Regions from separate parts of the Homo sapiens genome. Here regions 1 and 3 are each reported to be linked to region 2. Evidence: microRNA targets listed by miRTarBase, many of them from high-throughput screens and not tested one by one. Region 2 holds a microRNA gene; each other region holds the end of a gene's coding sequence.

Region 1 (6,718 bases), not on the chromosome of region 2:
CGAAACCCCATCTCAGAAAACAAACAAACAAACAAACAAAAAAACAAAAAACAACGAGATATCACGTCTTGCCTGTTAGTATTATTTTTGAAAACCAAAAAAGTCAAAGCAAAACAAGTGTTGGTAGGTATGGGGAGAAAATGGAACCTGTGTACACAATTCATGGGAATGTAAAATGGTACAGCCATTATGGAAAACAGTATGGAGGTCTAAAGATTCAAACTATTACTACTGTATGATCCAAGATTCCCACTTCTGACTATATATCCAAAGGTAATTAAATCGCTGTTTCCAAGACATATTTGCACTCCATGTTTATTGCAGCATGATTCACAATAGACAAAATATTGGAAACAACCTAAGAGTCTATCAACAGACCAATGGATAAAGAAAATGTGGTCTATTTATACAATAGAATATTATTTACCCTTAAAAGGGAAGGACACTCTGTCATTTGCAATGAAATAGACCAACCTGGAGGACATTATGCTATGTGGAATAAGCCCAACACAGAAATACAAATGCTGTCTAATTTTGCTTAATGCGGAAGCTAGAAAAGAGTCTAACTCAGTAATAGAGAGTACAGTGGTGTTTGCCAAGGGTTTGGGGTGACTGTGGGAGGAAATGAAAAATATTAGTCAACAGATACAAACTTTTATTTTTAAGATGAATAATTTCTGAGGTTCCAACATATAGCATGGTGACTGAAGTTAATAAAAATGTGTACTTGAAATTTGCTGCAGAAGTAGATGTCACGTGTTCTCACAACACACACGCACAGAGGGTAAGTATGTAAGGTGATTGATATGTTGCTCTGTTAATTAGCTTGCATGTGGTCATCATTTCACAGGGTATACGTATATCAAATCATCACACTGTATACCTTAAATACATTCTAGTCATATTTGTCAACCATATCTCAATAAAGTTGGAAAAAAAAGAAAACTATGGGCAAATTATACATAATAATAAACATAAAAAATCATTTGAAAACATTTCTAAAGCTGCTTTGTCTTCATTATAGGAATGTAAAATATTACCTCTGCTGGAATATGAACTACACCCAGGATTTGAATAGTACAAATTAGATGAGACGACTTGCAGTGTAGAGCCCTCTAGGCTTTCAGCCTAGAACAGGAAGGAACGCAGAGTAATGACAGCAAACAGTGAAGCTATAGGATAATAATTCCTCCTCAGTGACAAGAGGCCCCACCACTGCTTTGGACTCCAGGAAGCACTCAGACATTAACATCTGTGAAGTGTGCCCTGCATGCTAAGAAAAGGGTGAACTGACAGACCCTTCTGTCCATCAAGTCATCCACAGCCTAGTTATTTCTGTCTCTGCTGCTAATTGTGCCAAAAGTAACCATAAAATCTGGAGTCAACTGCTAGAAGTTTTGCAAGAACAAAGGCCAAGGAGATGCACTTGTGTCTTGGTGAGTAGCCAAAGTTAGCTGCAGGGAGCTGAAGCAAGGGACTGAAAAAATGAGAAGTCTTAGAAAATGTTCTCCAGTCCTTGAGGATCTGAAGGCCTATGTGTGACTGATATTTGGTGGAGAAGAACGGACCTAGCTCTTTCCCCACTCCAACCAACCAAAATCTTTGTTGAAAGGCATATTGTGTATTGTCACTAATTCTGGGAAGGCGGGGGCCATTGGTTTTCATGAAGTGTGACTATGAAACATGAAAATCACACAAGGCAATCTTGATCTGAGGAATGCTTCTAAGAGAAAATGAATACACCTGCCCTATAGGCCCGCTTCTCTACCAAGCACACGGAGATGTCCACTTATTCTTGCTGGCACCAAATGGTGATATTCAAAAGAGCTGGCATAATTTTTTAGAGTTGCTAAGTATATAAAGCACTAACTTTATCAATTTTGTTAATTATACTTCACTTCATCTCTGTCTTATCAATTAGCTAAATAAAAACAGCATCAATTCATGAATATCATGATAATAAAAAAATTCAGGTAAATATTCAAAAAAGTCAAGTGTTAGCTGTACATATTATTGTAACTATAAAGGAAGGGAAAATATATCTTTATTTTATGAAAGCCAGTAAAATAAATCAAACTTCTCTTAAAATATTTGGTAAGGAAAAACTAACAACGTGTTTCTTTTTAAAATAAACTTCTAAATTTTGGAACAATATTAGGCTTACAGAAAAATTGCAAAGATGCTAAAGAGAGTTTTTCACACACCCATCTCTCAGTTTGTTTCTTCTAATATATTCATCCTTCATTAGCATACATACTTGTCAAAATAAGAAACCAAAATTGATACATCACTGTTAAACTATTCAGATTTTGCCATTTTATTCAGATTTTATTATCTTTTCTGTTAGTATTACTTTATGTTCCAGGGTCCAATCCAATATACCGTACTCCATATAGGTATCTTGTCTCTTTGACAAGCTTTGATCTGATATTTCTCAGTCTTTACTTGTTCATAACTGTAAGGGTTTTTTAATGAAGGGAAATAGGGTTTACAGAGCTGCAGAACAATTGTTATTTTTAAAATGCTGTTTATCAAGAAGGATTTTTGTTTCCTGATCCTGGTCAATGTGATGTTTTAGCAAACAGTGAAATACACTGGCTTATTAGTCTCAAATAAAAATTGTTAATCACAATCTAGAATTCACCTGTACAAGGTTTGTAGTGGACAAAAAATTAAAATAAGGACAAAAAGGAAAATTAAGAATGTGCTGTGAAGAAACTTAAAAGGCAGACTGAGAAATCTGGAGTTTACTCAACATTGGAAACCACTAGACACCTGGAGCACAGAAGTCATTTATATTAATCCTCACTTGCCTGTAGTTGTTAGTTGCCTCTGGCCACTCTGAATAACCCGGGTAGATCCAGTACTCCCACCTCTTGTACTGATGCAAGAGACTAGAAGCTTCTCCAGATACTGTATTAGCAAAGGGGAATTATAAAAGACTTATATTATCTAAGCAATACTTTGAAAGACCGGCAGATTACAAAGATGGTCGAAAACAAACAGGATCAAATGGAACAAGGATAAAATAAAGTTCTACATCTACGTTTATGGGAAAAATCAGTTACATAAATGGAGGATGGGGGATACTTAATCTGATAATCAATACTTCACATGAAAAAGTTTACAAAGTTTTGTGACCTCAATTTCAATATGAGTCCTGAGGGTCATATGTTCACTAAAAATTCAGTCCCCGTCTGGAGAGGTGTCAATCTCACCATAGTACATGGGACTCAAACTCATTCGTGGTTTATTGAAAGGTGAGTATGTGAGGAATACTGTGCTAAACCCTATTCCAATACTTGAAATCAGAATTAGAGGTGTTTTAAAGCATTGGAAAATAAAAGAAAAGCACAATGAAGAAATTCAACATTATGCTTTTACTTCCTATTAACTCGAGTTAACTTATAAAAGAGTTTATAAAAGAGTTGTAATAACAATGCCTAGAGGAGGACTCTCCCATCCCTGATCACAACCCCATTTCAGAAACTTCTTCTACGGGGACACTTCGACAGTAGATTTTTGATGAACTTTATATCCAGTCATTTAAAAAATTATTACAACAAGATACTTATACTGTTTAGGCACAAATAGATATGCACATTATATTAAAACTTTTAATAAGTATGGGCTAGCAAATAATGCATGATATCCTTGGTAATATCCTTTTGTAAATTTTATTAAGTAACATACAGCAATAAAGTTAGATCCCACATCTTGAGCAACAGTTGGATCCATATCTGGAGATAGAATCTTCACTGTCTTCAGAGTTCTGGTTGTCGGGTGACAGTAGGGAGCTAAATTTCTGAAAATCATACTGACATACCCTGTATCCATCTCCCTGTCCAGATAAATAAAGTTATATATAATATGGGCTAAGAAAAAAAGCATTTAAATAAATATATTGATGGCAATGCTTAGCCACAGAATGCAATTTACAGGTGTAAGCAGTCCAGCATTATCTAGCCAGCATTTTAGTCATATTCCTTCTAGTCTTGTTTAAACAAGCAAATATGGCTGATATTTTTGATACTGTTATATAACATAATATTTTTATTAAGTTAGAAATATTTTTTCTTTCATTAACTCTATTTAGATCACTTTATTTCAATTTCTGCATAGTTTTCCATGTAACATATGAGCTACAATTTATTTGACCAGTGCCCTGTTTGCGAAAGTTGAGCATATTTTGCTTATTTCCTTTCCTTGTTTCTGTATTTATAAGTAAAAGTGTCTATCTGCACAAATCTTTCCGAATCAGAATGGTTGCAATATTTTTAGGATTTGTAATACATATTTTCAAAATTTTTTTCTGGCAAGGCTGAGCCAATTTGTATCTCTCTGCATACTAGTAAAGTATGAGGGGTTTACTTCCTGCACCTGCCAACCCCACATATAGGCATGACACACATGCCTTGCCTACATGGTTCCAAACTATATTCATTCATTATACATATTCATAGCCATCATGCACTAGATACTGTTCCTGCCCATGGTAATAAAAGGATGTAAAAGAAAATCTGATCCTGTCACCATGGTGCTTATAGTCTAATCAGGGAGACAGAGTATTGATGAAACAACTGCACTCAGCCACTAGTTCAATGTGGACACTGACCACAGTAAATTTGAAAATAAACCTAGAAACCATTATGTTTTGATAGGTGATATGTTCCCAAAACAAAAATTCCTAGTTTCTTATCTCCTTGCCTTGTAACACACGCTAGAATGATATCTCCTGGGCCTCTGCTACCTAATAGAGATCTTATCAAAAAGTCTTGTGTTGCTTTTCCGTAATGAAGCCTGTGCTTCCTTGATTGGAACCTTGTCTATGCAAATTACAAAGGGACAGACAATAGTGGACCCAGCTCTATCCTGTATTTTATGGCCCTGTCCTGCAGAAATCCATTTTCTAGCTTGCAACCTATTCCTCTCTCTCCTCTTGGACTAGTTAAAGAAAGTATTCCTAGTTCCATAGTGATGCCTTTGAAACTCTGGCCCCCAATTTAGGCCCTAAGAACTCCACTGGACTTCATAGAACACATTGATCCCAAGTTTAATAGCATTTTATCAGATTTCACACATCCCTTCTATACATTTCTGCTAGCTTTCTTGGGGTCAGGATCCTGGTGCTGGTACAGGTGCAGAGTACAGCATAGGGCTCTCTTGACCTCTTGATTGCGCAGGCAGTAAATGATGGGATTGAGCAATGGTACAATGACAGCATACAGTACAGAGACCAACTTGTTGGTGTCAAAAGCTGAGAGTGCCTTTGGCCGAGCATAGATGAAGATACTGGCTGCATAGAAGATTATCACAACAGTGAGATGAGAGGCACAGGTGGAAAAGGCCTTATAGCGTCCAGCAGCCGAAGGAATGTGCATCACAGCACCAGTAATGGCCACATAGGAGGCCCCAGTGACAGAGAGTGGCCCTAGAAGAATAAAAATGGCCAGGATGAAATCTGTAAGCTCTGCTGTGGACATATCAGTGCATGAGAGGTTGAGCAATGGAGAGACATCACAGAAAAAGTGGTTGATGATGTTGGGGCCACAGTAAGAGAGGCCAGAAATAAGAAAAACTTTGACCATGGAGATGCCAAAACCTCCAGCCCAAGAGCCAGCAGCCATCTGCACACACAGCCGGCCACTGACAATGACTGGGTAGTGGAGAGGATAGCAGATGGCCATATAGCGATCATAGGCCATAACAGCGAGAAGGACACACTCAGTGCAGCCCAAGCCAAGGAAAAAGTAGAGCTGTGTCATGCATCCCTCAAAGGAGATTAGCTGTCCATGATCCTGTTTGGATCCAACAAAGCCAGCAAGCATCTTGGGAATAGTGACAGTGACATACCAGATCTCCAGAAAGGACATATTAGCTAGAAAAAAGTACATGGGTTTGTGGAGGGTAGAATGGTTCCTAATTGCCATAATGATGAGTGTGTTCTCAGTCAGCACCAACACATAGGCCAGCAGCAAAAGGGCAAACAATAGTACCTGTAGTGGCGCAGGAGCAGGGAAGCCCAGCAACACAAACTCACTCACTCTCCCACTATGGTTCCGCCACTCCATGTCATTGGTCTCTCTTACTGCTCTTCAGGAGATGAGAGTAGAGAGTCTTCAGTAGGCCACAACAAGAACCCAGCCTTTCTCTTAATGGGCTTATATTGGTCGAATACCACGTAAGGAGTTCATGTAATTAATCACTGAGCTGAGGCCACTGCTCTCTTCTTTAATCTGGAAATGAGCTAAGGCAAACATACAAAAATAAATGTTTTTTTTTTTTTGGAAACAAGATAGGAAGGAGTCTGTTCTGACCTTTGGAGAAGCATGCATTGAGATGCACTGGGGAAAAATGACACTATTTTGTCCCCAAAGAACATAGATCAAAACCAAAAAATTGAAAGAGTCTCGGCTGCCCTAAAATGAGAGTTTGTCTTTGAGTTGGATCATGACTCTGTTTTGAGGAAATAAGTTACACAATGGAGGAATAACAATCATATATAACACAATTGAGTTATTATTAGCACAGGCACTGTTATTATTGCATGCACTGCTGTAAAACATTTGCAGTATTAATTCGCTTGATCTTAACAACAATCTTGTGGGCTAGTACTACTAATAGCTACAACTGTATGCCTAAAAAAACTGAAATATAGATTTAAGTGACTAATTCTGGGTTGCAGAAATAGCAAGAGGTGGAACTGGGAAGTCAGGAC
Region 2 (6,718 bases):
ATTTCATAACAGTTATATATGCATAATTACCTTTAATGTTTTGAAATATATATATTTCAAATGCCTTTTGGTTTCCTGTGCTGTTTTGAAATATATATCTTATATTTCAAATAGAAATATATATCTTATATTTCAAATAGAAATATATATTTTATATTTCAAAAAGAAATATATATCTTATATTATATTTCAAATAGAAATATATATCTTATATTATATTTCAAATAGAAATATATATCTTATATTTCAAATAGAAATATATATCTTATATTTCAAATAGAAATATATATCTTATATTTCAAATAGAAATATATATCTTATATTATATTTCAAATAGAAATATATATCTTATATTATATTTCAAATAGAAATATATCTTATATTTCAAATAGAAACATATCTTATATTTCAAATAGAAATATATAACTTATAGTTCAAAACAGCACAGGAAACAAAAAGACATTTCACTGTGCTTGGATAACATAATTTTTATGTTATCAAATTTTAGAAATTGGTTGAAAATGGTTTTATGGCCTGAAATCTCCACATTTTTATATGAAGATTTATATTTATTTATTTATTTTTGCTTTATCATGCGTGATGTACAACGTACTCCCCTTTAAGTGACCATTTGTGGTTTTAACATTTCTAAAAATTTCTCAGCCAGTATATCTCAGTGGCCCAATACATAATTTTCTTCCCTTCTCAGACACTAATTAGATACATACTATACTTTTATTCTATTATTTATTTCTATGGTTTAAGCATGTCTCAAAATTCCATGTGTTGGGAATGTAGTCTTCAAATTTATATGTTGACTTGAAGTGGTGACTTTGGGAGGTAATTAGAATTAGACAAGATCATAAGAATGGAGCCCCTGTGGTAGGACTAGTGGCTTTGTAAAAAGAGGAAGAGAAATCTGAATGGGCACACTCTTGGCCTCTTGCTATGTGATTCCCTCATTATGTTCTGACACAGCAAGGAATCTTTTACTAGATACCAGAAACATGCTCTTGAACTCTCCATCTCCAGAACCATGAACAAATCAACATTTATTCCTACAAATCATCAGTTTGCAGTATTCAGTTTTAGCAACGGGACACAGATTAAGACATCTACATGTCTTGTTAACTTTTTTCAAGTTATCCATTTTTATTTATCTTTGCTACAATTTTTTTCTGTTTAATGTTTCAATCCATGAATTCTTTCTTCAAATTTTATTTCTTTAAGCACATTAAATATGTATTTTATGATCTTTATCTTATCCCCAAACCTGATTTTCCGGCAAATGTGAATATTAAAAAGTGGGCAAAGGACATGAACAGACACTTTTCAAAAGAAGAAATACATGTGGCCAACAATCATACTAAAAAACGCTCAACACTACTGATTATTAGAGAAATGATAATGAAAACCACAATGAGATACCATCTCACATCAGTCACAATGGCTATTATTAAAAAGTAAAAAAAAAAAACAGACGCTGATGTGGTTGTGGAGAAAAAGGAATGCTTATACACTGTTGGTGGGAGTGTAAATTAGTTCAGCCATCATGGAAGACCCCGTGACAATTCCTCAAAGACCTAAAGTCAGAACTACCATTAGTCCCACCACCCCATTGTTGGGTATATGCCCAAAGGAATATAAATTGTTCTATTGTAAACACAAATGCATGAGTATGCTCATTGCAGCATTATTCATAATAGCAAAGACATGAAATGAACTTAACTTAAATGCCCATCAGTAATAGGCTGTATAAGGAAATTGTGGTACATATACACCATGGAATATCATGCAGCCATAAAAAAAAACAGAATGAGATCATGTCTTTGCAGGGACATGGATGGAGCTGGAGGCCATTATTCTTAGCAAACTAATGCAGAAATAGAAAACCAAATATCACATGTTCTCATGTATAAAAGGGAGCTAAATGATGAGAACATATGTACATGTAGCGGGGAACAACACATAGGGCATAATGGAAGGTGGAAAGTGGAGGGTTGGATGAGGGAGAAAATGAGGAAAAAAAAACTAATAGTTACTAGGTTTAATATCTGAGTGAAGAAATAGTCTGTACAACAAAACCCCATGACAAAAGTGTACCTATATAACAAACCTGCACACGTAACCCTGAACTTAAAAGTTTTTAAAAAAGAAAAAGAAATAGAAAAGGAAAACATTTATATTATTAATGATGATAATAGCGCTGCTGCTGATTAACAGGATACTTATTAATCTCATCTATTATGTGGGTTAGTAAGCAATGCCACAGAGATTTCTGAAATGCTAACCACTTATGAATAACTTCCCAATTACTTTTTCCTTCATCAACTGCTGGGAATTTTCTGTGCATTTCTTTGTTCCTCCTCATATTTTATTTTATCTTCCCATTGATTGACCTAAAACTTCATCCTTCTCAATACCATATGACCAAAACAAAAATGAAGTGAAAAAGTGAACAATATTAGAGTATTGACTAATCTTTTTATTAAAAATATCAAAAGCTGAAAAACTTAATAACAGGACTGATGGAGTTAACTATATCATTCAGATATGGTGCACACGTGTCAATCTGAAGACTACTTTGCTCTTCGTGACTTCAAAAAGTAGCACACTGAGACTTCTCTATGTAATTTCCTTTTTTTAATGTCCTAGGATGCTCATATAACCACAGTGGAATCTAATGCATATACACGTCTTCTTTTGAGAGCTATGTGTACATTAGTGAGGCTTTAGTTTTCTTGGAAACATTATACAGTGAAGCAACCAAATTGTTTCAAACATTGCTGATTAACAGGAAACTTGGAGAACATGAAACTTGTTACCAAACTAGGAAGTGTCCGGGAGTATAATTTATATACACCACAATATGCTGCAAGTGTGTTTCATGTTATCCTCATTGTTCCTTCCATGCATCTTCTTTTTAAAATGCAATCACTCCTTAAATGAAATTTTTTCTGGAAATATTCATCAGGAAAATATTACAATGATGTCCCATAAATTTCGGCCTCATTTCTAAGTGGTACTATAAATTTTTGGCTTTATCTTTTCATTTGAATGGTATTTAGAAAGTCTTCTTAAGTATATTTGGAATCCGAAGAGCTTCATCGTTTGAAATGTACTGTTAAAGGTTAATGACTGTTAGTCAGGGTTCCTAGGGAGGTAGAACATATAGGATATGGAGATAGTTACATTAGAGAAGATTTATTAGCGGAATGGGCTCCCATGATTATGGAGGCTGAGAAGTCTCATGATAGGCCATCTGCAAGCTGGAGACCAGGGAAGCCAGTAGCACGGCTCAGTCCAGGCATTCCTCAGGTGGTCAGACTTGGACTGAGCCATGCCAACTGGCTTCCCTGGTCTAGGCAATCCAGTGGTATGAATTCAGTCCCAGGTCAAAGGCCCCAAAACAGAGCTGCTGTTGTGAGCCCCAGAGTCCAAGAGCTGGAGGAACTGGAGTTCTGATATTCAAATGCAGGAATAGAAGAGCCTCTTGCTTTGGAAGCAAGAAAGAGAGCAATAGTTTGTCCTTCCTTTGACTTTGTTTTCCATCTGGAACCCCAAATAGGATGGTTCCTTTCTACACTGAGGGAGAATCTTCCTCACTCAATCCACTGACTCACATATCAATCTCCTCAAAAAACACCCCCCCCGACACACCCAGAAACAATACTTTTCCAGCTAAGTATTCCTTAATCTAGTCAAGTTGACACCTAAAGTTAACCATTGCTGATTTTCACATAATTATTAAAAATAAAAATCATTGAATGAAGTTAAAAGTAATGAATGTATGCATGAAAATGATACAAATAATTCAATTAGGAAGTCCACCTAAGATACAATTTAGGATTGTAAACTTACACTTAAGGTCTTAGTGAAGCATAGTTCAAAAAAAAATTTTTTTTTTGCGGGGTGGGGGAAGTCATCATTTATTTGTCTTTTACATGAAAACAGATTTGGGGGAGGGAGAAGCATAGTTTTTATCAAATTCTTTCTTATTTAGAAGTAACCTTCATAGCCTCTGAAAATAAAATTCCACATTACCATTTTTAAAATGATTATTTCCAAATGCTTGGCAATTTCTGGGAACTTTAGAACCTTCATCCACTACATTTTAAGTTAACACAGGTATTATCAAACAAATATGCCAGTCACTTCAATCTTTTATACAAACATTAATAAGTAAAGACAAAAAAAATTTCCTAGCATGAAAGAATCATGAGACACAGTATAATACCACTTGGAAGTACAACAGTGGAACTCAACATGAGCCAATCTCAGCTCATCAGCATTGCCATGACTGCAATGCTTCACTTTGTTTTATGAGCTACCTAGAGCCAGATGCTATAAAATTGCTGTGAGGGATTGCCTACTAGGGACTTATGTAGGCCATGCCAGGAGTAACACAGTGGTCTCTTTATACTACTATCCATGTAATAAACATTCTGTACAGCAGAGTTTGGGAATGTAGGAAGTGTTTTTTAAATTATGTCCTAAGAAAGCATTTGTCCCAAACACTAATATTCATTCTACCACACAATTCCTTAGAAATCTCATTCAGCATTGCCACACATGTTTGCAATAATAGCAATTTTGCTGGCCAGTGTTCTCAGGACCGACAGCACAAACATCTATGCTGGCAGAGTAGGCAGCAACCATCACGTGTTTGGTTGCTTGATTCCAGGCAGTTTACCTCATTTGTAAATAGGACTCACGGCCAGGAATTCTGGTTTGCAAGTTCTCTCACCTCGTTTGGAAACATTTAATTCATTCTAACAATCTGTCTGGTGTACAGAAAGAAAACAATGTTCTAGTGCATCCTGCCATTTCTTTGAACAGCCACATTCCATATTTTACTTCTTTTTTTCTCATTTTCTATAGAGTTGATGAAGCAAAGCTCCCCAGTGGATAGGAGCTTGTGATTTATATGAAAACAAGCACTAAAATTCAATGTAAATAGATACACCTTTGGGAAAACTTTGGGAAGCTTTGAGAAAGATATCAATCAATTATTTTTTTAAGTACCAAGGTTCATCTCATGAAACCACACATTAAATAAAAGCCTGTGTTTTTGGTTTAGCGCTAATTTCACCGGAACATCCTGTGGTGAAGAGTCTATGATTATTGTGCCCATACTTCTTCAGAGAAATAAAATGAAAAAACAGCATCCCTTTAATTTTTTATTTTATAATTTCTATTTGGGTCTATTTGGATATAATTTATAAATCCATAAAGTCTACTTGGTACATTTAAAAGTTGTTTTAACTGTGATCAAGTAGTATTAACCAAAATGGAATAAATAATTTTTTTTAAAAAGTTAGTTTATTTTGGTCCTTAGTATCCTGAGCAATCCATTGTAACAATACAAGCTGACTTCAAAATCCAACTGAACTCATTTTTTAAAAATGAGCAATAATAGGTCTTATATAATAGAATTGTGAGAAATTGGAGGTTTTACTAAAAGTGTTATTTAGATGAGAAAATTATAGCCTCATATTAGCACATCTGCACCTTGACAATCAAATGCATGAGTGCATTATAATTTCAATGAATTATGCAAAATGCTAATTAAAAAGTTGAATTTACTAATCATCTCTCAGGGTCATAACTGGAATTGAATTTGAGTAAGGACGAACAATTCCATGAAGTGCATTTTCATCGTGTAGTCTTTAAAGCTGTTTAGAAATGCATACCAGAAAAACAATTTTTGTTTCTATATAGATGCTAATTGATTTTGCTGTGTTCAACCTATCAGAAATTATTGATTACTCCCTTATAAATTATGGCTATATACTGTTACCATGACTTTCAGAAAATGGTGCATTATAAATATACCTAATTATAATAAATGTAGGCTTTGCATTTTAAATTTTGAACTAGTTAAGCAGTAGAAATTTCTCATATAATTTTCTATACCTACTATTCACCTTTCAAGCATAAAGCATATTATAAAATGGTTTTATGTATTTCCTATTTATGATATTTTCAATTTTTAGCCCTTTAAAGACATATTTCAAAAATGTACTCATGTTTACTTCTAATCATTATTTGGAACATCTGGATATTATAGAACACAGTACTATAATTTTTGAGATAGCTATATTCACAACAGATGAATAATTAGGTAGATTAAAAATATAATTTTGCACAACTGCATTTTAAATATAATGTAATAGCTTCAGTGTCTCTTCAAAATTTTAATTTAATATTTAGAAGTATTCTGCTTCTATTTGTCATCATATCATTTTTTTCAAACAAAAGCTATAAAAATATAAGATAAAATGATTTGACCCTTCTTCTGCCTACACAACCTTCCCCACTTTCCAAGGGCCAGATGAAGTTCTACATTCTTGTGAACTGAATGGATAGGAATAAAATGTTATCCAAAAACATTCCCACTCATCAAAGGATTGGTGTATCCTACTGGAACAAAATAAGTAAAGTAAAATTAAGACAGACTGCCAATAGCTCCTCCAAAATACTAAGACAATGTGTCTCATATGAGAAAACATGAATACACATGTTGAATTAAATTCAGGTCACTGGATTCATTAAGTTCAAATTTGTTATAGAACTTCAATGCTTCTCATTAAGTATCTGAAATTTACTGTTAATTTTGAGATGACTTTGGCAGTCAATGTATAATTTTGTCTAGTGAAGTCCTACTTTCAGGATTACTTTGGCAATGCTTCTTTTGATTATTAAATTTAAGTGCTTA
Region 3 (6,718 bases), not on the chromosome of region 2:
ATTATTTTATAGTGTCTTTCTTTGTCACTTCACCATGTTGGGCAATGTGAGAAGGAGGCACTGCCAAGCTTGTTTAAGTTGGACTAACTATCCTGATGGATCAGAAGGTCAGAGCAGATATACAGCCTTGGCTCTTTCTTATAGAACTTGGGCTCTGGGAAGTGTGGGACCTCATAAATGACTAGCATTAATCTCATTCAAAACACTGTTCCTGTATACTGGGCAGACGTTGTGCAAAGCAGTATAAGGAAGGCTCTAAGAAGTTCACTATCTCTTTTGCCATTGGTATGACATAGTTTCAGTCTATCGTTGAGGGAAGGAGGAGAGAAAACGCCACTTAGAGGAACATCAAATGTAACTTGGGGTAATGTTTAGGCTCTGGGAGAAGGAAATTAGGCTTTGAAAGTCTGACCTCTTAAACCTTGGGAACAGGTGATTCAGCCAACTCTGACTCTTGTGTTTTGTACATACAGCACTTCAGTCTTTCCAAGGTGAGTTGTATGAGCCGCATGTCGTCATAGCTATTGTTGTTTTCCTAGTGAAGCTAGGTATTTGTAAGTGAAGAGCCTCATGGAGAAAGAAGGTAACATTAGTAGTAAAATAGTCTCCAAAATTTGCTTTACAAAATATGGTAGTTGCTACCACCCAGGAGAGAAGTCTTCCTCATGGCTCTTTAATTGACGGATGGTAAATGACTGCCTCGCTACCTCTTGTTCCAACAGGTCCTTTGTCATCCAGCAAATCCCAAGCAGCAACCTGTTCATGGTGGTGGTGGACAGCAGCTGCCTCTGTGAATCTGTGGCCCCCATCACCATGGCACCCATTGAAATCAGGTATATCCTTTTGTGTGCAGGTCCACTCACTACCACGGAAACCAGTAAGGGGTATCAGTGGTAAGGAAACCTGGGGGAGAAATATTAGAGAAGGAAAATTACATCCTTTCCACTGTTGGAGAGAGAGAGTAGTTAAGAGAGTTGTCATTGCCAAATTTTGACCTCTGAAATGCAGAGTAGAAAAAAGCAATCCTTGGAAACATGCCTTAACTACAGTCAACATAATGAATCCCTTAAGTGTGAACGTCTAAAGGCCCAGAAGATCAGAAGGCGCCCAGAATCTTGTCATGGCTTCCATCCTGAGGTAAGTCTGAGAACTGTTCCTGTTTCCTTTTCCCATCAGAATCACCACGAGAGTCTCACACTGGTCAAAGAACTACAGCTGAAAAGTTCACTCATGAGAAAATAATCCCTTTCATTCAGTAAACTGAATCTGCACCATCATCTAGGTCCCAGAAGACTTCGTTCTTACGTTAGAGAGGGGGAGAGAGGTCTGGGGAAAGTTGAAGGTGTCCTGGAGTCTATTTCCGTCTAACCAACCCCTGCCTTTCCCCATAGGAGAATGCAAGGGAGTGTGGGGGTGCGCCGAGTCTCCAAGCCCAGACAGTCCTCCTTCTGCTCCCTCTGCTTTTGATGCTCTTCTCAAGGTGACACTGACTGAGATGTTCTCTTACTGACTGAGATGTTCTCTTGGCATGCTAAATCATGGATAAACTGTGAACCAAAATATGGTGCAACATACGAGACATGAATATAGTCCAACCATCAGCATCTCATCATGATTTTAAACTGTGCGTGATATAAACTCTTAAAGATATGTTGACAAAAAGTTATCTATCATCTTTTTACTTTGCCAGTCATGCAAATGTGAGTTTGCCACATGATAATCACCCTTCATCAGAAATGGGACCGCAAGTGGTAGGCAGTGTCCCTTCTGCTTGAAACCTATTGAAACCAATTTAAAACTGTGTACTTTTTAAATAAAGTATATTAAAATCATAATCTCCGTGTTTGGATTTTATCATCACTTTATTGCTAAGAACACCAACTGAAAACAATGCATGGGGGAAAAGGTCCCCATTCCAGAAACCAGGAAATGATGGCTGTTGGCAGAGCCTTTGTTCTAAAGCAGATTCTAGGCACATATTTAACAACTGTTTTTAGATGCTTCACTCACTCTCAGTTATAAAAATATTTATAGAAGTATATCAAAATATCATCTACATGGGAAGAGTTTATTACATAGAACCGTGAATTTTGTTGAACTAAACTTCAATGAAAATCATAATTTGGATGCAAACACAAGCTTTCATCATATTCAAGTGGTGAATTATTTGGGAATAGAAATAAAGAAGTCATAAATCCTAGGAATTCGGTCTGAGGAGACTTGAAGGAGGAAAAGAACAATGATTACAAATTTGGCTTCTGGCTTTCCCCATAAACAAGATATGAAATTAGATCTCAAGTATGATGAGATGAAACTACCCAGACATGTAAGCAAGCATTTCTAAACGCTGGCTCTTGACCCAAAGAAAACAGATTTCACTGGATCATGGTTACTAAATAAAGTGAAATAATTTCCATGCCTAGGCAGAGTAGAGAATGCCTTACTTTATAGGACAGACGACATCTAAAAGTTATCCAGAGAATCCTACTTACTTACTTAAACTCTTTTAAAAAGGGGCACATTATCCTCTTGATATTTTAGAAAAACTGATGTCACTGTACTGCTTTATACTAAAATGATTCCACTACATTGTTTGTTGTTTGTTGTTATAACTTTTAAAATTAAATTACTATGCCTCCAGTGCTGTTTGTTTGTTCTCAACATCACAATACTGTAACAGGCAAACTTGCCAAACTTTCAACAGCCATGGAGCTATAGAATTGTGACAATTGATGTTACTCACTCTGTGCACTTGGTAAATGAATAAATTCATTTGTTGCTCATACAAATATAAAGATAGATATATTACATTTACACTGACACATTGATATCAGATAAGGAGCCACAATTTATTAAGCTGGAATGATTGATGATAAGACTCTAAACCCATAAAGTTACAAGTATAAAGACATTCTATTTACAAGTATAAAGACATTCTATTTATACCTAAGGTGATGACCAGAGGAAAATTGAGCTTAATACTGAGAGAGATGAATTTATCACAGATCTAGGTGATTTATAGGAAAATTATTTAGGTGATTTTAAAAGAGAGCAAGTTAGATGATTTATAAGAGAGAAATCATATTTTAATTAATTTTTAACAAAAATAACATCACATAACCTATGATTCTCCATTACAGTTCTTAAAAACTGGCAACAATAAGTCAAGCATATTATGTTATAATGCCCATAATTTAATGCAAATGATGCAAAATACATGTAATATAATTACGTATAATTCCACTCCCAGTCTCATTCTAAACGATGGAGTCATTTTTGTTAAACTGTTTATGGCATAAATATAGCATCCTTGAGTCACACTGCACCTCATGCCCTTGTCACGATTACATTCATGTAACTGACCCACCAGGCACCTCTGATTCGCTGTTCTCACAACAGCTTCAAGCAACTGGACCCTGTTTGTTTGTCTACTTTGAAATTGAATAATTTTCTCCAACTTAATGTGTCCTAAGCACAACTCACGATCCCCCTCCATTAAACTTTTTTCTTCCCACTGACGCAACTCCAACCCCAAACCTTGGGGCCACCCAATTTGCTCTTTCCCCCGCAACCCACCTTGCAGCAAGTCTCACGAGCTGTGCCCTTCAAACACCAAACCTGACCATCACTTTTCCCAGCCCCTCACTGCTGCCATCCTCTTCCCAGTCACCACCCCCGTCCCTGGTCTCTGAAGACCTATGTCCTCATTAGTCTCCTCTCTTCCACTGTCAGCGACCACCCAGTCCCACTCCACAGTCCGTTCTCCACACAACAACCAGAGCAGTTTTTCGGAAACAAATATCTGATCCTAGCCTTGCCCAGTACAATTAAAACAACATACACATCCCTTACTGTAGTCCACAGCAGGGGTTCTCTGAGTCTTCTGTGTGTTCGAATCACTCAGGGACCTTTCAAAAAATCTCTGGGGCAGGCCGGCCATGGTGGCTTATGCCTGTAATCCCAGCACTTTGGGAGGCTAAGGTGGGCGGATCACCTGAGATCAGGAGTTGGAGACTAGCCTGGCCAACGTGATGAAACCCTGTCTCTACTAAAAATACAAAAATTAGCCGGGCATGGTGGCAGGTGCCTGTAATCCCAGCTACTCGGAAGGCTGAGGCAGGAGAATCGCTTGAACCCGGGAGGAGGAGGTTGCAGTGAGCCAAGATCGCGCCACTGCACTCCAGCCTGGGCGACAGAGCGAGACTCCATCTCAAACAAACGAAAACTCTGGGGCAGAACCCAGGCATTTTAGTTTTTGTTAAAACTCCCCAGGTGATGTTAATATGAAGCCAGGTTGGCATCCGCTGAGCTGTGGGACCTACAGGGACTCGGCTAGACTCTGCCTCCCTTTCCCACACCATCCTGTGCTGCTCTGCCCCAGACCCGCTGTGCTCCATGGCTCTGCCTCCAAGCCTTTGAAAATGCCAGGCATGGTGCCCACTCAGGGCTTTTGTTTTTCATGTGCCTTCTGCCTGGAGGGCTCTGGACCCTGGTCTTCATGTGGCTGCTCCTTCCCAACATCCACGCTCCCTTCAAAAATTCCTTCCTCAGAGACCCCTGGTACAGCTGCTCTTCTCCCCTAGCCCCACTCCTCTGGTTTTACTTTTCCTTTACATCAGTATCTGGAATCATTTTATTTTCAGTTTCACCTACTGTATTCCAGCTCCATAGGTCAAGGACTCCTCTATCGTTCGTGACTTCATCTCCAGCTCCCAGAACAGTGCCTGGCCTATAATACAACTAAAACCACCAATAACAGTGACAAAGCTAGCACCTACTGTTTACTGTGATCTGACTCTCTCTGCCTGGTGTTATTTGAAGTGACTTCCATGTTTAACTCGTGGGATTTTCACAGCACACCTAGGAAGTAGGTGTGATTCTGATCATCATTATACACATGGAGAAATGGAGGCACAAGGGGAAAAGTCATGCTCCCAAAGGTCACATGGTTGGAAAAGAGCAGAGTTGGGATTAGAAGCCAGGCAATTTTGCTTCCGAGTCAGGGCACTCAGCCAATCAAGTACTTCGAATGGATGAATGAATTGCCAATAACTTTGTACTACAACATCTCCGCGTCTCCTACCCACTGATCTTATTGCCATCTCTCCAAACTGCTTGGCCTCCACTCCCTGCTCTCTAATACCAGCCTGCCAACTCACCTCCCTGAGTGCGGCTGCTATTCCTGTCCTCCCACTTCCAGGCCACTGTCTGCTGCCCAGCAGCCCTCCCCTGTCTTCATTTCTCCCCGTATCTCACTTAGAATACACAAGTCACATAACATTCTATGGCTACCCGAGCTGCTGAGCACATCTGGGCTGCCTAGCATACCTGGGCAGAGCAGTAAGCAGCCTGACATATTCTTTCCTGAGTCGACTTCTATCCCACTGTCCCCAACAAGTATTTCATAGTTTCTTCCCTCTCTTTAGGATATTCTAGAGTATGTTGTCTTTCTAAAATTTGCAGTAGGAGATTTCTGTATGCAATATTAATATGATTGATACCAAACATATCCAAAGGTAACTTATCAGAGAACATTTTACTAAAATGTACAGTTTATGACTAATTAATGTGATATAGTTTAATAGAGCATTATATAGCACAATTAGTTACTAAAGTTATAGGCTGTGACATTCAATATAATTTGTAACAGATTCAGAAGGTATCTATAGCTAATCATAGTGTAGCAACGTTCTTCCTAAAATATAGAACTATTTCATATATGCATGTATATACTTGTATAATTATAAAATTCATTGTATGTATATACTAGGTAAAATTCATAAAATTATAATAGAACAATTGCAATATTTATTGAGGGTAGAATACTAAAATGCAGCATAGACAAGACAATGCAATGATACCTCCATGTGTCCTAAAATTAAAGACTGGCCGGCTCCATGTGCCGTCCTTTTAGGAGCAGTATTGAAGGGAACACAGAATTAGAATAATGTAGCACACTAAAATAGGATTGTAATGGTGTCGGTAAAAACTACTATTTAATGTGTGAAGTAATTTAGGATGAGGAAATGTACATTATTATTTAAATTATGAACAGTACAGCACTGTAGAGGATAATAATATAGCTCTTGTTATAGGAGACTCTGTAGTTTAGTAAAATATTAAAATTACAGGCAGAAAGAGCACAGCTTTATTACTATCAGTATCAGAGGTCATAATAATTTAACAGACCCCTGAGGGCCATTTGCAGTGTCTGCAATTTGGAAGCTTTGCAAAGATGTCTCTAATTGGCACATATTTGCTGGAGAGTCAGCTGGGGGCATTTCTACTAATAGGACTTCGTCACACACACGCCGCTGGTAGTGACCAAAATTCCTACTGGGGGCTTTGCAGGCATCGTTTCCCTTAATCCAGTGGTTACAGACCGAGACGACTTTGCCCCAGAGGGGTCATTTGGCAATGGCAGAAGATACACTGTGGGGGAAGGGGCAGTGCTACTGGCATCTAGTGGATAGAGACCAGGGATGCTGCTACCATCCTACAAAGCCCAGGACAGCCCCCGACAACAAAGAATTGTTTGGCCAAATGTTTCAACAGTGCCAAAGTTGAGGAACCCTATTCTAATCCTTAAGGATTATTAGGGATTTTGTCTTTACAATTTAATGATGCCATTAACCTTCGGTATCCCTATTGGCATCTAAATTATGGAGGTTGACTGTACCAATGCTGGGAATCTCTTCCATAGTGTAAGAGAGTAAAC

Evidence for each region. Region 2 holds the annotated microRNA hsa-miR-1269a (CUGGACUGAGCCGUGCUACUGG, at 3,286-3,307, opposite strand). A microRNA usually pairs through its seed, bases 2 to 8, with sites in the 3' UTR of a target mRNA and lowers its output. Matches are read on the target gene's strand: a 7mer-m8 pairs with bases 2 to 8, a 7mer-A1 pairs with bases 2 to 7 and ends in A, and an 8mer does both.
Region 1: the mRNA of OR6A2 is a reported target of hsa-miR-1269a. Seed matches in the 3' UTR shown: 7mer-A1 at 4,940-4,946.
Region 3: the mRNA of CACNA2D3 is a reported target of hsa-miR-1269a. Seed matches in the 3' UTR shown: 7mer-A1 at 1,589-1,595.

The regions. Positions count from the first base shown.
Region 1 is chr11:6,789,638-6,796,355 of GRCh38, forward strand. It overlaps OR6A2 (olfactory receptor family 6 subfamily A member 2), which reads right to left. Exons shown (of 2, transcript NM_003696.3): 2 at 2,099-6,247. The coding sequence starts at 6,071. The coding sequence ends at 5,088. It overlaps OR2AG1 (olfactory receptor family 2 subfamily AG member 1), which reads left to right. Exons shown (of 2, transcript NM_001004489.3): 2 at 1-1,921. Among named protein-coding and RNA genes, the nearest start is that of OR6A2, 6.7 kb to the right of the region's middle.
Region 2 is chr4:66,273,479-66,280,196 of GRCh38, reverse strand. MIR1269A (microRNA 1269a) reads right to left here and starts at 3,373; the gene lies at 3,269-3,373.
Region 3 is chr3:55,072,723-55,079,440 of GRCh38, forward strand. CACNA2D3 (calcium voltage-gated channel auxiliary subunit alpha2delta 3) reads left to right here. Exons shown (of 38, transcript NM_018398.3): 36 at 723-835; 37 at 1,055-1,137; 38 at 1,392-1,835. The coding sequence ends at 1,484. Among named protein-coding and RNA genes, the nearest start is that of LINC02017, 100 kb to the right of the region's middle. RefSeq lists a silencer at 6,661-6,718.